3 separate regions of the Homo sapiens genome follow, and all the other regions are linked to region 1. Evidence: fine-mapped expression QTL. A gene starts in region 1. Each other region holds a variant in brackets. All regions are shown on one strand. Distances are between the middles of the regions.

Region 1 (5,337 bases):
TGCAACATAAGTGGTTTCTTTTGTAATTCTATGTGTTTTATGCATTTGAAAACATAACTATGAGAAGGGGTCTATTGGTATCAGATGACCATGGCACACAGAATTTAAGAACCCTGATCTACTGATAGGTGGAGGCACAAAAATGATTTTAAGACAGCGCATTGCCTACATCATGTGAGTTAAGATATAGTTAACTGCTAATGCTGTTGATAGTGGGGTTATTAGTTTGCATTTCACTGCTAAGCCATGCTACCTGTGTGCCTGTCACAAAGAGGAAGCTCCAGATAGTTGCTAAATGAAAGGACAAACTGGGGTAGAGTTCCTGCAACAGCAGTTTGACTACTCCACTGATCCTACCAAGCAGCCTAACTGTGGCTCAGTTTCTCCTCTCTGAGGAATAGGAGTAACTATTGCTTACCCAACGACCCTGGAAAAACTTACAAGAAAAAACATTAATTTGTGTAAAAAGACTTAAGCCCTTTGAAAGACATACTTTTTTATTTTCCACGTGTATCTTTAAACAATAGTTCTAGTGGTCTTAATTTTATTAACACGGTGTCCACATCAGAATCGTGAATCCCATTTCCAGTTCTGCTGTCCACTATGGGCCATAAGGAAGAAAGAAGCAACAGAGGAAAGAAAGCTCTATCTCGCCCGGGCAATGGGTGGACTTAAAGATCAGTGCATATTCCTTGGATTTGTTTGTAAATTGTTCATGTATGTGTAATGTCTGGACAATGAGAATCCATAGCTTTCATCAGCTTCTCAAAGTGGACTCCAAAGAGGACCTACTCTAGAGAAACAAATGTGCTCCTGAAAAACTGTAAACAAACTGTGAAATGTTCAAATTTCTTTTTTACAAGACCCTCACATGTAAACCAGAACCCCTTCCGTACAAACTGTGGGTCACAGATAATAAAACAGGCCTGTGCAACATCTCACAGCTAGTCAATAACCAGACAGGACCACCTGGTTTCTTCCCCCCTGCATCAGCCTTGTCACTGAACAGTTTTATTCTTCTTTTTTTTTCTGAGACAGAGTCTCACTCTGTCGCCCAGGCTGGAGTGCAGTGGCGCCATCTCGGCTCACTGCAACCTCCGCCTCCCAGGTTCAAGCAATTCTCCAGCCTCAGACTTCCGAGTAGCTGGGACTACAGGCGCACTAAGCTACGCCCGGCTTTTTTTTTTTTTTTTTTTTTTTTTTTTTTTTTTTTTTTTGTATTTTAGTAGAGACGGGGTTTCACCGTGTTACCCAGGCTGGTCGCGAACTCCTGAGCTCAGGTAATCCGCCCGCCTCGGCCTCCCAAAGTCCTGGGATTACAGGCGTGAGCCACCGCGCCCGGCCAGTTTTACTCTTCTTAAATCTGATGTTCATGGCATAAAGCAGGAGTAGTGGCTTTAAATATCACTAGCCACAGCTTTCAGTTGCTCTGATCGCTATCATTCACAACTTTGAGTAAAAGGAAGAAAGAAAATTCTTCCAACTGACTTATTCAACTTTCAAAAATGAGTTTGTTGCAATGCCAGTTTAAAAGCTCCCCTACTACACCGTGCTTCTATAAAGGATTCTCAAATTGATGTATGTCCAGCAAGACTTACTACTAAAGGTCACACAACTGTACTAGCACGAAACAAGCCAAGAGATAAGGCCCTGTCATCCTTCTGTGTTCAGGAAACAACGGCGGGATCATGCCACAGGCCAAGATTTCCAAAGAGATTGCTTTAGAGAGAATGGATATCAGGAAGCAAGAGCAACAGTAATTCTGGCAGAAGGGCTAGGATCCATGAGTACCCGGGGGGGGTGGGAGTAGGGGGCGGGGAAGCTTGTACAATAGATCGTCTTAATAGAAATCTAGTGTGGCCAGGAGTGCACGACCACCAATAGAAGCGCCTGCATTTTCCTTCACAGCTATCACTCTCTCTTCCCTTCCCCGCCCACCAACGAAAGCAATGCGGCAGGAGTGGAGAGCACGGGATGAATAAATGGAGTATCTTTGGGGCGTAAACCCGGTTTTAAGACCTGTTTCCACCCCGAAATAGCTGCCTGACCCAGGCAAGTCACAAAACCGTGCCTCAGTTTCCCCACTACACTGCCGACTACACAAGAATGCTGCCTGGATTAAAGGAGACAGACAACGAGTACGAAACCTTCAGCACAGGGCCAGACAGAGGAACCGCTCCGTGGCCCTAGGGCGAGTCCGCAAGAGGGTTCTGAGGCCTGGGCTCCGGCCCGGAAAGGGCGCTCCCGGGGCCCGCTCCCCGCCAGCTGGGTTCCGAGCCCCTGCCCGGCCCACCTTGTTGTTGTACTCCTCCACGAAGCTGCCCAGCGCCAAGCGAAAGCGCTTATCGGGCCGCACACTCCAGTTCATCGCGTAGACTGTCCAGGGCGCTTCATACTTGTAGATCTCCTTCCGTTTGCCGTGCAGGGACATGGTGGCCACGGGGCCGCAGTACGGGCCGGGTCAACAGTGGGCTGCGGCGGGCGGGGAGCCGAGCCTGAGATCTATGGGTCCGAAGGGAGGAGAGGAGGGGGCGGGCAGGAACGGCCTAACCCGGAAGCGGGGATGCGGCGACAAACAACGACGACGGCCGAGCCCGACCCCTAGTTTCAAACCAGCTTGGGAACGGACGACAACCACCTTCCGTTTTGGGACGCCGCCCCGCCCTCTCGGAACGGAAGCCGCCGGACCCCCGCAGCGGCACCGGCCGTTGGTTGCCTGACACGTCCTTTCGAAAGGATTCTTTCTTGTCATTGGTTATTGCGGCCGTAGCGTCTGAAATCTCCTCGCTATTGGGTTAAATGTTTGTCATTGCAACTACTCGCCCCGCCCAACTCTCGGAGGCAGGCGCTTTGGCAGCCCCAAAGGTCATTGGTTGGCCAAGATGTCAGTCAGGCAGATAACGGCTCAGTGCGGGTGGTGGGGGCGTGGGTGGCCTGGAGGCGAGCGTGCTGTAGCAGCGGGCCTCCAAGTTCTAGGCCAAGTCTCTGAGAGTGAAACCGTCTGTGACCTGCGCTGACTTCCCCTCCGCTGCTGCTGTTCTGAGCGGCCTCTCCACGCTGTCGAGTAAAAGTACAATTCTGCCTTAGTGGAAGACCTACTGACTTTCGCGGGACAGAGCCCTGCGGCCTGGCAGCCTGGCCTGCGCCCAACGGGTACCACCTTCCCGCCCCATCTCTTCCCAGGGCCCTTTTAACCCGAAAGCTGCTCTCTCCGTGCCTCAGGGACAGGCTTCGGGCGCGCAGATGCGCTCAGGGCCAGGCCAGCTTGAGTCAGGCCCTCCCGCGCTTTCCTGCAGGATCTAGAAATGTCCCCGAATTCTGGGGTAGGCACCGACCCGACCAGCTTGGCTCTGTTTTTGTCAGTTCCCATCCTGTACCCTTCCCGCCGTGGATCCCAACGCAAATGCTAATCCAGCCCCAAAGGTATCTGTGCCTGTGAGTTGGAAAAGGGGAAGGGCCAGAGACCAAATGACACCTTTATATAAATTATTTCCAATTCTCAGCTTTCATCAAAATTGAAGGAGGTTTGTATTGAATTGTTGGATGATAACATTAAATACTTTTTTTTTTTTTTTTTAAAGACAGGGTCTTGCCCTGTCACCCAGGCTGGAGTGCACTGGTGTGATAAGGGCTCACTGTAGCCTGGACTGCCTAGGTTCAAACGATTCCCCCACTTTAGCCTCTGGAGTAGCTGGAACCACAGACATTTGCCACCACACCTAGCTATTTTTAAATTATTATTTGTAGAGATGAGATCTCTCCATGTTGCCCAGGCTGATCTCGAACTCCTGGGCTCAAGCGATCCTCCCACATCAGCATCCTAAAGTACTGGGATTACAGGCTTGAGCCACCATTCTGGGCACTAAATATAATTTTTAATGATAAATGATTTTTCCACCTCCCAGGTTCAAGTGATTCTCCTGCTTCAGCCTCCCGAGTAGCTGAGATTACAGGGGTGCACCACCACAGCCAGCTAATTTTTGTATTTTTAGTAGAGATGGGGTTTCACCATGTTGGCCATTCTGGTGTCGAACTCCTGACCTCAAATGATCTTCCAGCCTCGGCCTCCCAAAGTGTTGGGATTACAGGCGTGAGCCACCGCATCTGGCCAAGAAATCCTCTTTTTTTTTTAATTTTATTTTATTTTTGAGATGGAGTCTCACTCTGTCGCCCGGGCTGTAGTGCAGTGGCACTATCTCGGCTCACTGCAACCTCTGCCTTTAGGGTTCAAGTGATTCTCTTGCTTCAGCCTCCTGAGTAGCTGGGATTACAGGCGCCCGCCACCATGCCCAGCTAAAGGAAATCCCCTGTAAGGAGGAAAGTTTAAAAACAAATTTAAAAAGGAAAGAAAAAGACGTACAAAATTCGCGGTACCTTGTCTTATTCTAATAAAAAATAATGATATTTATCCACAGATATAGGAACTAACGGGGGGAGGAAATTTTCTCTTTTATGACGTATATTTCCAATAAAATTTTAGTTTTTATTAGAAAATTGAATATATATTTATGTTGTTTTGAACAACTGTACTACTAATAGATGTAACCCTTAAAGCCTTATTAAGGTTACAAAAATTAATTTTAAAATGTCAATTAATTTATACACATTCGTTTTGAGGCAGGGTCTTGCTCTGTTATCCAGGTGGTGGTGCAGTGGGGCAAACAGTGCTTATTGCAGCCTTGACCTCCCGGGCTCAAGCAATCCTCCTGCCTCCTTTATTTTTTGTAGAGACAAGATCTTGCTATGTTGCCCAGGCTGGGTTCAACTGGTCCTCCCACCTCAGCCTCCCAAAATGCTGGGATTATAGGCATGAGCCACCCCATGACCGACCTACTTTTTTTTTGAAACGGAGTCTTGCTCTGTTGCCCACGCTGGAGTGCAGTGGCACGATCTTGGCTCACTACAAGCTCCACCTCCTGGGTTCACGCCATTCTCCTGCCTCAGCCTCCCGAGTAGCTGGGACTACAGGCACCTGCCACCACGCCTGGCTATTTTTTTTGTATTTTTAGTAGAGATGGGGTTTCACCCTGTTAGCCAGGATGGTCTTGATCTCCTGACCTCGTGATCTGCCCACCTCAGCCTCCCAAAGTGCTGGGATTACAGGTGTGAGCCACTGCGCCCAGCCACTTTTTTTTTTTTTTTTAAGAGACCGAGTCTTGCTCTGTTACCCGGGCTGGAGTACAGTTGCATGAACATGGCTTACTGCAGTCTTGACCTCTTAGGTTCAAGTGACTCTCCCACCCAAGCCTCCCAGCAAGCCCTGTAGTACCTGGGACTACAGGTGCGCATCACAATGCTTGGCTAATTAAAAAAAAATTGTTTTGTAGAGACCAGGTT
Region 2 (5,337 bases), 110 kb before region 1:
CCCAAAGTGCTGGGATTACAGGCGTGAGCCACCGCGCCCGGCCTAAAGCCCTTTTTAAAATCTGCTTTGAAGCTACACAATTTCAGAATAATAGATGCCACATATATCATCTTTTTTGTTTTTGAGACAGGGTCTTGCTCAATGAGTGCAGTGGTGCAATCATAGCTCATCGCAGCCTGGAATTCCTTGGCTCAAGTGATCCTCCCGCCTCAGCCTCCCAGGTAGGTGGAATTGCAGGCATTTGCCACCACGACTGATTTTAAAACTTTTGTAGAGATGGGGGTCTTGCTATGTTACCCAGGCTGGTTTATCACTTGTTATACAAATTATTTCTTTTTTGTTCTAAGATAATGCTCAATATTCAAGGAGTTCATCCAAATTGAGATTAGGTGAATAAATCCGTGTCTTCATTATCCATGCTCTTAAACGCTTTAAAGACTCTGATTATATATGCTTAGGCTGTCTTTCCTAACTAAAGAGTTCTAAACTTTTTTTTTTTTTTTGAGACGGAGTTTCGCTCATCGCCCAGGCTGGAGTGCAATGGCACAATCTCGGCTCACTGCAACCTCCGCCTCCCAGGTTCAAGCAATTCTCCTGCCTCAGCCTCCCGAGTATCTGGGATTGCGGGCATGCGCCACCACGCTCAGCTAATTTTGTATTTTCAGTAGAGACAGGGTTTCACCATGTTGGTCAGGCCGGTATCAAATTCCTGACCTCAAGGGATCCACCTACCTCAGCCTCCCAAAGTGCTGGGATTACAGGCATGAGCCACCACGCCTGGCCAAGCATTGTAAACTTTTACACTGTTCATATATGAAAGTGACTCCAACTCCTTGAAAATTTTGTCTTCTGGACATTTGCTAGCTCAGTTGTCTTCAAAGCTGCAGGGAACAGAATGATACAACATCTCACAAGTTCTCCTCATGGACAGTATTATACTTTCTGCTTGGCTTCTAATGATTTCCAACCGTGGAGGCACCTGGGTGAGGTTTCCCAAGGACTACAATAATTCTAAGAACCCTCTTCTGGGGCCGGGCGTGGTGGCTCACAACTGTAATCCCAGCACTTTGGGAGGCCAAGGCGGTCAGATCATTTGAAGTTTAAGAGTTCGAGACCAGCCCGGCCAACATGGTGAGGACCGCCCCCCGCCCAACCCCATCTCCACTAAAAATACAAAAATTAACCGGGCGTAGTGGCGCACGCCTGTAATCCCAGCTACTAGGGAGGCTGAGGCAGGAGAATCGCTTGAACCCGGGAGATGGAGGCTGCGGTGAGCTGAGATTGCGCCACTGCACTCCAACCTGGGTGACAGAGTGAGACTCCATCCCAAAAAAAAAAAAAAAAAAAAAAAAATTCCCTCTTCTGGATGGTGACTGACAGGCACTAGACTACAAGTCAGAACATCTGGATTTCAGACCAGCTCTGTCACTACACACTGCCTCACCTGAGCAGTCACCCTAAGTCTCAGTTTCCCCAGATGTAGACTGGAGATAATAGACGCCTGCCCTGGTACCCTCAGAGTTGTAAAAATCAAGTGAAAGATAAAAACACTTTTTATGTGCTAGGTGTTGTTATTATTACTATTATTCGAGACAGGGTCTTACTCTGTCACCCAGGCTGGAGTGCAGTGTTGCAATCTTGGCTCACTGCGGCCTCAACCTCCCGGCCTCAGGTGATTCTCCCACCTCAGCCACTCAAGTAGCTAAGACCACAGGCACGCACCACACCTGGCTAATTTTCGTTTTTTTTTTTTTTTTTTCAATAGAGACAGGGTTTCGCCATGTTGCTCAGGCTGGTCTCAAACTCCTAGGCTCAAGTAATCTGCCTGCCTCAGCCTCCCAAAGTGCTGAGATTACAGGTGTGAGCCACCATGCCCAGCCCAATGTTATTATTATTGAGATGAGATGGAGTCTCGCTCTGTGGCTCAGGCTGGAGTGCAATGGCGCAATCCTGGCTCACTGCAAGCTCCGCCTCCTGGGTTCATGTCATTCTCCTGCCTCAGCCTCCCGAGTAGCTGGGACTACAGGCACCTGCCACCACGCCCAGCTAATTTTTTGTATTTTTTAGTAGAGATGGGGTTTCACGTGTTAGCCAGGATGGTCTCCATCTCCTGACCTTGTGATCCGCCTGCCTCGGCCTCCCAAAGTGCTGGGATTACAGGCGTGAGCCACCGCGCCCGGCCCAGTGTTTATTTTTAACAGGGGCCAGAAGAAGCTATTCTGCCCAATCAGGTTTGTTTTATCTTCCTGCACCTGTCCCACT[A/G]TTTTACAAGGACTGAAAAGAATTACCTTTTAAATTATCCTTGATATTTTTAACTTACAATATTTAGGTGAGAAGATTAGAAGCTTATTTTTGTCAACGCGAATATGAGGTAACAAAACAAAGTGGCTAGGTGTTTAGTTTTTATCGTATACAAATACAAGTTACAAAAGAAGGTTCAGCTTGATATTACTTTATGACAGTGGAAGATCTGAGACTAGAAAGTCCTAAGAAGGTCAAGAGCTGAAAGACAAATGTAAAAGTTAGATGCATAAGCTAAAAGTTGGTGGTCCAAAGCAGAGGCTTAGGACAGCAAAAACTACAGAAGGAGACAATGAAGTATCTTAAAATGATGGTAGAGACCAAGGCTAGAGAGAGGCTTTTCAGACAAAGAGACTGGCCAGATCCGGTGGCTCACACCTGTAATCTCAGCACTTTGAGAAGCTGAGGCGTGCGGATCACTTGAGGTCAGGAGTTTGAGACTAGCCTCGCCAACAGTGCGAAACCCCATCTCTACCAAAAATACAAAACTTAGCCGGGCATGGTGGCATGCACCTGTAATCCCAGCTACTCAGGAGGCTGAGGCAGGAGAATCACTTGAATCTGGGAGGCGGAGGTTGCAATGAGCTGAGATCGTACCTGGGTGACAGAGTGAAACTGTGCCTCAAAATAAAAAAAAAGAGATAGTTCTGTGATTACCAAAACTCAGGAGTTCTCAAGAATAATATTGAGGCCTCTCAGACATGGCCTTGGCCAAAGTGAGGTGGGAGAGGTAAGACTATGTACCTTGTGAGGAATGAAGACAGAAGGAAAATTAGAAGCTGCCATATAGGGATCAGAAGAATCCAAGGCGGGGTGCAGTGGCTCATGCCTGTAATCCCAGCACTTTGGGAGGCCGAGACAGGCGGATCACCTGAGGTCGGGAGTTCAAGACCAGCCTGACCAACATGGAGAAACTCCGTCTCTACTAAAAAAAAATACAAAATTAGGCGGTTGTGGTGGTGCATGCCTGTAACCCCAGCTACTGGGGAGGCTGAGGCAGGAGAATCACTTGAACCTGGAAGCCAGAGGTTGCGGTGAGCCAAGATCACACCCCTGCACTCCAGCCTGGGCAACAAGAGTGAAACTCCATCTCAAATAAAAAAAAAAAGAAAAGAAGAAGAAGAAGAAGAAGAAGAATCCAAAGAGAAGAAAGAGATAGCACAATTCAAAACAGGAACAAGAAGAGAAACAGCCAGGTATGGTGGCTCAAACCTGTAATCCCAGCACTTTGCGAGGCTGAGACAGAAGGATTGCTTGAGCCCAGGAGTTTGAGACCAGCTTGGGCAACATGGCAAGACCCTGTCTCTACAAACAATTAAAAAAAAAAAAAGAAAAGCCAAGCATGGGGGCACACGCCTGTAGTCCCAGTTACTTGTGAGGCTGAGATGGGAGGAAGATAACTTGAGTCTGGGAGGTTGAGGCTGTGGTGAGCTGTCACTGCGCCACTGCACTCCAGCTTGGGTGACAGAGTAAGATCCCATCTCAAAAAAAAAGGGAAATAAAGGAATAGGTGGTAACAAAAGGCGGTGAGGCAACTGCTACAAATGCAGGAAATTCAAAGTGGAGAAACAAAGTGACTGACAGTATCAGCGGAGGTGATGAAGACCAGGTGATATAGTATCCTGGAGCAGTGTACTTAAGGTATGATATCTGGGCTGGTGCCAGTCCACACACTGGTATACTGCTCGTCCTGCTCTTCCACCAAGTAAGTAAAGAAATGGAGAGGGCCCTTTGAAAAACTTTAGAGCAATTTGGCAGAGTGATTTTATGTTTATTGAATCTACTAATGAAAACTGTAGCCTTATAATTTATATACCTCTAGTTTATTTTTCCATTTCACTTCTCAGTTTTTGTATTTAAAAAAAGAACTGGTACGGCCGGGCACAGTGGCTCATGCCTGTCCCAGTACTTTGGGAGGCCAAGGCGGGCGGATCACAAGGTCAGGAGTTCAAGACCAGTCTGGCCAACATGGTGAAACCCCTTCTCTACTAAAAATACAAAAATTAGCGGGGCGTGGTGTCGTGCACCTGTAATCCCAGCTTCTCGGGAGGCTGAGGCAGAAGAATTGCTTGAACCCGGGAGGTGGAGGTTGCAGTGAGCCGAGATCACGCCACTGCACTCCGGCCTGGGCGACAGAGTGAGACTCCATCTCCAAAAAAAAAAAAAAAAAAAAAAAAGTCCATGACAGATTTGAAATCAAAAGAACAAAACTGATATTTCATCACATATAGTTAGAGGAACACTGTTCTAGAGGTGAGGATTCCTGAGCACAGAGCAATTTTGGATCATAATTCTTCCATTTATTAAGAAGCCTAAAGTCTAGGTGAGGAAGTTCTGGAGGAAAGATTTCATCACCAAACATTACCATTGTTACTCTTAAATGTAAATATTTATAAATGCAAAAAACAGGAGCAGTTTCTGTGTCCCAACAGTAGCAAAAATGGTTATTTAATTAAATTATGGTATATCGACTCAAGAGAAACATGTATCCTTACAAATTATAATTACAACATAGAAAAATGTTCACCACAGGCTGGGTGTAGTGGCTCACACTTGTAATCCCAGCACTTTGCAAGGCTAAAGTGGGTGGATCATTTGAGCTCAGGAATTCAAGACCAGCCTGGGCAACACAGTGAGACCCCATCTCTACTAAAAAAATTAAAAAATGGCCGGGCACAGTGGCTCACGCCTGTAATCCCAACACTTTGGGAGTCCGAGGCGGGTGGATCACCTGAGGTCAGGAATTTGAGACCAGCCTGACGAACATGGTGAAACCTTGTCTCTACTAAAAAATACAAAAATTAGCCAGGCATGGTGGCGGGCACCTATAATCCCAGCTACTCGAGAGGCTGAAGCAGGAGAATCATTTGAAGCCAGGAGGCGGAGGCTGCAGTGAGCTAAGATCACACCATTGCATTCCAGCCTGGGCAACAAGAGCAAAACTCTGTCTCAAAAAAAAAAAAAAAAAGAAAAGAAATGGTCAGCATGAGCAGCATTCCACCTAAACTTTGTCCTAGTCACTACACCCACACTTAT
Region 3 (5,000 bases), 200 kb before region 1:
ATCATAAGAATACAGGATAACTCAGAGATGGTTATAAATGTAAGTTCAAGGTGACATGTTTATAAAGGATCCCCTGAAATTATTTTAGGTGTTATCTTTATGCTTTCATTCTTGTTTCGACCATTATTTTGAGAAATATTTTTAGCTGCTCGAAAAGAATCTTAATCATTGGTATGACTAAAAAGGAGTACTACTTTTTTTTTTTTTTTTTTTTTCTTAGTAGAGATGGGGTTTCGCTGTGTTGGCCAGGCTGGTCTGGAATTCCTGGCCTCAAGTGATCCACCCACCTTGGCCTCCCAAAGCGCTTGGATTACAGGCATGAGCCACTGCACCCAGCCTGGAGTACTACTTTAATTCTAAAGAGATTCCCTATCTTATTGAAATTTAATTTTTAAAAAGCTTTAGCCTTGTCCGCGCGCTGTGGTTCACACTTGTAATCTCAACACTTTGGGTGGCGGAGGCAGGAGAATCACTTGAGTCCAGGGATTCAGGACTAGCCTGGGCAACATAGTGAGACCCTGTCTCTACAATAAAAAAATTAGCCAGGTGTGGTTGTGTGTTCCTTTAGTCCCAGCTACTCAGGAGGCTGAGGCAGGAAGATCACTTGAGCCCAGGAGATTAAGGCTATGGTAAGCTATGATTGTGCCACTGCACTCTAGCCTGGGTAAGAGAGCAACACCTTGTCACAAAAAATAAATAAAAAGCAATGAACACGCTTTGGTCTTAATGAAGGACATTGTATAAAAGTAAGGATTGAAAGGTGAATTTCTTTTTTTTTTTTTTTCTTTTTTTTGAGACAGAGTGTTGCTCTGTCGCCCAGACCGGAGTACAGTGGCGTGGTCTCTGCTCACGGCAACCTCCACCTCCCGGGTTCAAACGCTTCTCGTGCCTCAGCCTCTTGGATAGCTGGGGTTACAGGCACATGCCACCATGCCCGGCTAATTTTTTTGTATTTTTAGTAGAGACGGTGTTTCACTGTGTTGGCCAGGCTGATCTCAAATTCTCAAACTCCTTGCCTCAAGTAATCCACCTGCCTCCCAAAGTGCGGGGATTACTGGTGTGAGCCGTTGCACCATCTCAAAGAGTGAATATCTTTAGGAAAAAAAGGGAAATGCATTAAACCTTGCTTTTAAAAAATATTATTTTCTTTTTTTCAGATGGTTCACTTTCTTACACACTATGCTGACAAGATTGAATCTGTTCATTTTTCAGACCAGTTCTCTGGTCCAAAAATTATGCAAGAGTACGTATAAGATAAAATTGTTGAAATTAATTTTCCTCACTAGCTTTCTGTGTTGAAACACCTGTAAGGTGCTTCTGCAATATCCCTTACCAAATGTGTGAAGGAAGTTGGTGACAGGCCTCCACATTTTCCTTTGCTTTGACTGCATGCATCATAAGAGGTCATTGTAAACCTATGGGAGAGAAATGAGCCTCCCCTATCCCAGTTTGTATGTGTCCCTGCATGTTTGTGCCACTGACTCAGTGAGATGGTTGGGAATCTTACAGAATGGCTGGTACTAATAAAATGCAGTGGGTTTTTTTGTTTTGTTTTGTTTTTTGTTTGTTTGAGACGCTGTCTCACTCTGTTGCCTAGGCTGGAGTGCGGTGGCACAATCTTGGTTCACTGCAACCTCCGCCTCCCGGGTTCAAGCAATTCTCCTGTCTCAGCCTCCTGAGTAGCTGGGATTACAGGCGTGCACCACCACGCTCGGCTAATTTTTGTATTTTTAGTAGAGATGGGGTTTCACCATGTTGGTCAGGCTGGTCTCGAACTCCTGACCTCGTGATCCACCTGCCTTGGCCTCCCAAAGTGCTGGAATTATAAGCGTGAGCCACCATGCCCCAGTCCATAGGTTCTTTTTTTTTATGATAATAATTTGTGTGTGATGTTTGACTTATGTCTGATTACAAATCTGTGTGTTTTGTAATTTATGGCCTTTTCTGGCTTCCCTCTTTGAATAGTTAAGTGATTGTATCCTTTCCTAGCATAGAAGCCCACAATGTCCATAGGGTTTCTAGCTTTATAGTAATACTGTTCAGGAGTACATATTCAGGACTTGGATTTGTTCTTTGAATTCACAGCCTGTCTCAGGAGAGCATATTTATTTACCTTTATGCTCGGTTTGAAACTGGTTCTGACTAAATTTTTAGTTAAAGACTACCCTCTGATAGGCTGTGGAGTTGAGCACAATTCAAGCCAATCTGGATTTTAGTTGTATACTAAGATTACTCAGGTCCTTATGCCTCTAGATAGTGCTGCATCATCCTTGT[C/T]TTGCTCAACTCAGTGGCACTGAGGACAGTGTTTCACATTGTAGCATTCATCATGCCTTTTAAATATGAGATGGAGGGCAATTGATAGTCAAAGGATTCATATAGGCAGAGATTACAAAGGAATCTTCAATGACAGAACTAAATTATATATGCTGTAGTAGATTATCCCTAAATTTACTCTGAGCCTAACTCAAAAATAAGATAATAAGATGCCTTGTTATAGGAAGATAGAATAGGAGTTGGAAATAAAACATAAAAATGCATCAAAATAAGCAAAAATGTATCTAAAATATGGGCCTCATACTTAAATATAGGCTCATTTCTGGCTCCCCAGGTGAGATGGAATATACCCTTGCCTGGAGGGAACATCACTGGAGGTGTTCAAATATAGGATAAAGATCACTTGAGAATGCATCCATCAGATAGACGAGTGGACCAGATGACCTGTAAAGCTCCTTCATTATATTTGACTTGGGTATGCCAAGCCAAATACTGTGCTGATTATGTGCAGGTATCTGTTCATCTAAGTGTATTGGGTGACTTGTGTACATGGAAAACATCTTTCTTGTATTCCTTCTTAATTGCCTTTTCTTTTATGACAGGGAAGGTCAGCCTTTAAAGCTACCTGACACTAAGAGGACACTGTTGTTTACATTTAATGGTAAGTATTCTGGGTCCTTTCTGGGTTCTTAGTCTTCTCTGAGATGACCTTAAGGAGAGTATTGTTTCCTCCTAAATGATAGCTTTAAAACTACGTCAAAACTATAAGCCTGTGCTTGCTTACTGATTTCCAGATTTCTTCAAGAAGAAATTACCTATTATATATTTTAATTTATATTTTCTGCTGCATTTTAACTGCCTAACAAACTTAGAGAAATGAGTCTCTTAAGATTAAAAAAAAAAAAGAGTTGGGTGACCTGGAAATATTAATGCTACCATTAACTCAGTAGGAAAAATGGCTTTGTTTTCCAGTGCCTGGCTCAGGTAACACTTACCCAAAGGATATGGAGGCACTGCTACCCCTGATGAACATGGTGATTTATTCTATTGATAAAGCCAAAAAGTTCCGACTCAACAGAGAAGTAAGACCCAATGCCTGTATTATATAAATTGGCACCTTTTTTTGTTTCTTCTCAAGGGGGAGGGCAGCTATCAATGATTTCAGTGACTGAATTTTTGCTAGTTGATTTAGAAGTGCCAAATGGGAGTAGTTTTATGAAAGAATGCTAAACGGGATTTTGTTGCTGTTGACTAGAAATGGATTTCTTATGAAATACTTTGTTTCTTGGGGAAGGGCAAACAAAAAGCAGATAAGAACCGTGCCCGAGTAGAAGAGAACTTCTTGAAACTGACACATGTGCAAAGACAGGAAGCAGCACAGTCTCGGCGGGAGGAGAAAAAAAGAGCAGAGAAGGAGCGAATCATGAATGAGGAAGATCCTGAGAAACAGCGCAGGCTGGAGGTTAGACAAACTTATCACTGGGGTAAAACTACGATTTGTAAGGATGACTGCTTGTGTTCTGTTGGTTGTTAAGGTAATCTTTGTAGGCTAAAAGTTTAGCATTTTCTCAACATTTGGGACATTGTATCAATTGATAACACTATAAAGAAGAATAAATAATCCTTCCTGTTCAAGCCGTGCCACACTGAGTCTGTGAACGTGAAAAATTATCAGTATTATCCTGTTCCCCCAGCACAATTTCATTTTGAAAATTCCATTATCAGTTTTCGAGCCAAACACTTTGGTAGAAAGAAGTTAGAAATTTTAATAGAAGGCAGCACATGCGCCCTATTATCTAAATAAACTTGCTATGTAAAATTTAAAATCTGATTATAGAATTAGAGATTTCCAATATTTTTGTTTGTATTTTTGTTTTCTGTTTTTTACCTAACTAGAATCTCAAACTCAAAAGCTTTTTGGGTATAGTATGTTATATTTGAAAGCTCGGTATGATCTGATGTGTTTCTGAAATAAGATGCCATAGTCCAGCTCTAAATTTTTTTTTTTTTTTTTTTTTTTTTTTTTTTTTTTTTTTGAGATGGAGTCTCACTCTGTCACCCAGGCTGGAGTGCAATGGCGCAATATTGGCTCAGTGCAGTCTCCGCCTCCCGGGTTCAAGCCATTCTCCTGCCTCAGCCTCCCAAGTAGCTGGGACTACAGGTGTGCGCCACTCAGCTCTAAATTTTAGACCTTGTAAATGCTGGTCAAGAAAGAGAACAAAGGCCAGGTGCAGTGGCTCACGCTTGTAATCCCAGCACTTTGGGAGGCTAAGGCAAGCAGATTGCTTGAGCCCAGGAGTTCAAAACAAGCCTGGGCAACATCATGAGACCTTGTCTCTACTAGTAAAAAAAAAAAAAAATTAGCTGTGCATAGTGGTGCATACCTGTAGTCCCAACTACTTGGGAGACTGAAGTGGAAGGATTACTTGAACCTGGGAGATTGAGGCTGCAGTGAGCTATGATCACACCACTGCACTCTAGCCTGGGCAGCCAAAAAAAAAAGAGGGAGAGGACAGGCCGGGCGTGGTGGCTCACGCCTGTAATCCCAGCACTTTGGGAGGCTGAGGCGGGAGGATCACAAGGTCAGGAGTTCGAGACCAGCCTGACCAACATGCTGAAACCCCGTCTCTACTAAAAACAAACAAAAAAATCAGCTGGGCGTGGTGGCGCGTGCCTGTAATCCCAGCTACTCAGGAGGCTGAGGCAGGAGAATTGCTTGAACCTGA

Alleles and levels. Alleles are on the strand shown, and positions count from the first base shown. SD is a standard deviation of normalised expression in the study named.
For the expression in cerebellum of the gene that starts at base 2,632 in region 1, allele A in region 2 goes with a lower level than allele G (large effect, 0.81 SD a copy in GTEx).
In carriers of allele T in region 3, the expression in sigmoid colon of the gene that starts at base 2,632 in region 1 tends to be higher than with C alone (small effect, 0.34 SD a copy in GTEx).

The links. PIP is the estimated chance that this variant, and not a neighbour inherited with it, causes the effect. A credible set is the group of variants that fine-mapping cannot tell apart.
Region 2: its variant is the best candidate, but not a certain one, in a credible set for the expression of DCAF7 in cerebellum (GTEx, PIP 0.51).
Region 3: its variant is the best candidate, but not a certain one, in a credible set for the expression of DCAF7 in sigmoid colon (GTEx, PIP 0.59).

Annotation. Positions count from the first base shown.
Region 1 is chr17:63,547,772-63,553,108 of GRCh38, reverse strand. It overlaps DCAF7 (DDB1 and CUL4 associated factor 7), which reads right to left and starts at 2,632. Exons shown (of 7, transcript NM_005828.5): 1 at 2,294-2,632. The coding sequence starts at 2,431. It also overlaps a transcript of KCNH6 not described here. RefSeq lists silencers at 2,139-2,288, 2,309-2,358 and enhancers at 2,509-2,588, 3,029-3,418, 2,718-3,702.
Region 2 is chr17:63,658,667-63,664,003 of GRCh38, reverse strand. All of the region lies in intron 5 of MAP3K3 (mitogen-activated protein kinase kinase kinase 3), which reads right to left. Among named protein-coding and RNA genes, the nearest start is that of LIMD2, 39 kb to the left of the region's middle. The variant A/G (reference allele first, on the strand shown) is at 2,263.
Region 3 is chr17:63,750,676-63,755,675 of GRCh38, reverse strand. It overlaps CCDC47 (coiled-coil domain containing 47), which reads left to right. Exons shown (of 13, transcript NM_020198.3): 9 at 1,158-1,243; 10 at 2,877-2,935; 11 at 3,247-3,356; 12 at 3,569-3,736. Among named protein-coding and RNA genes, the nearest start is that of STRADA, 11 kb to the right of the region's middle. The variant C/T (reference allele first, on the strand shown) is at 2,275.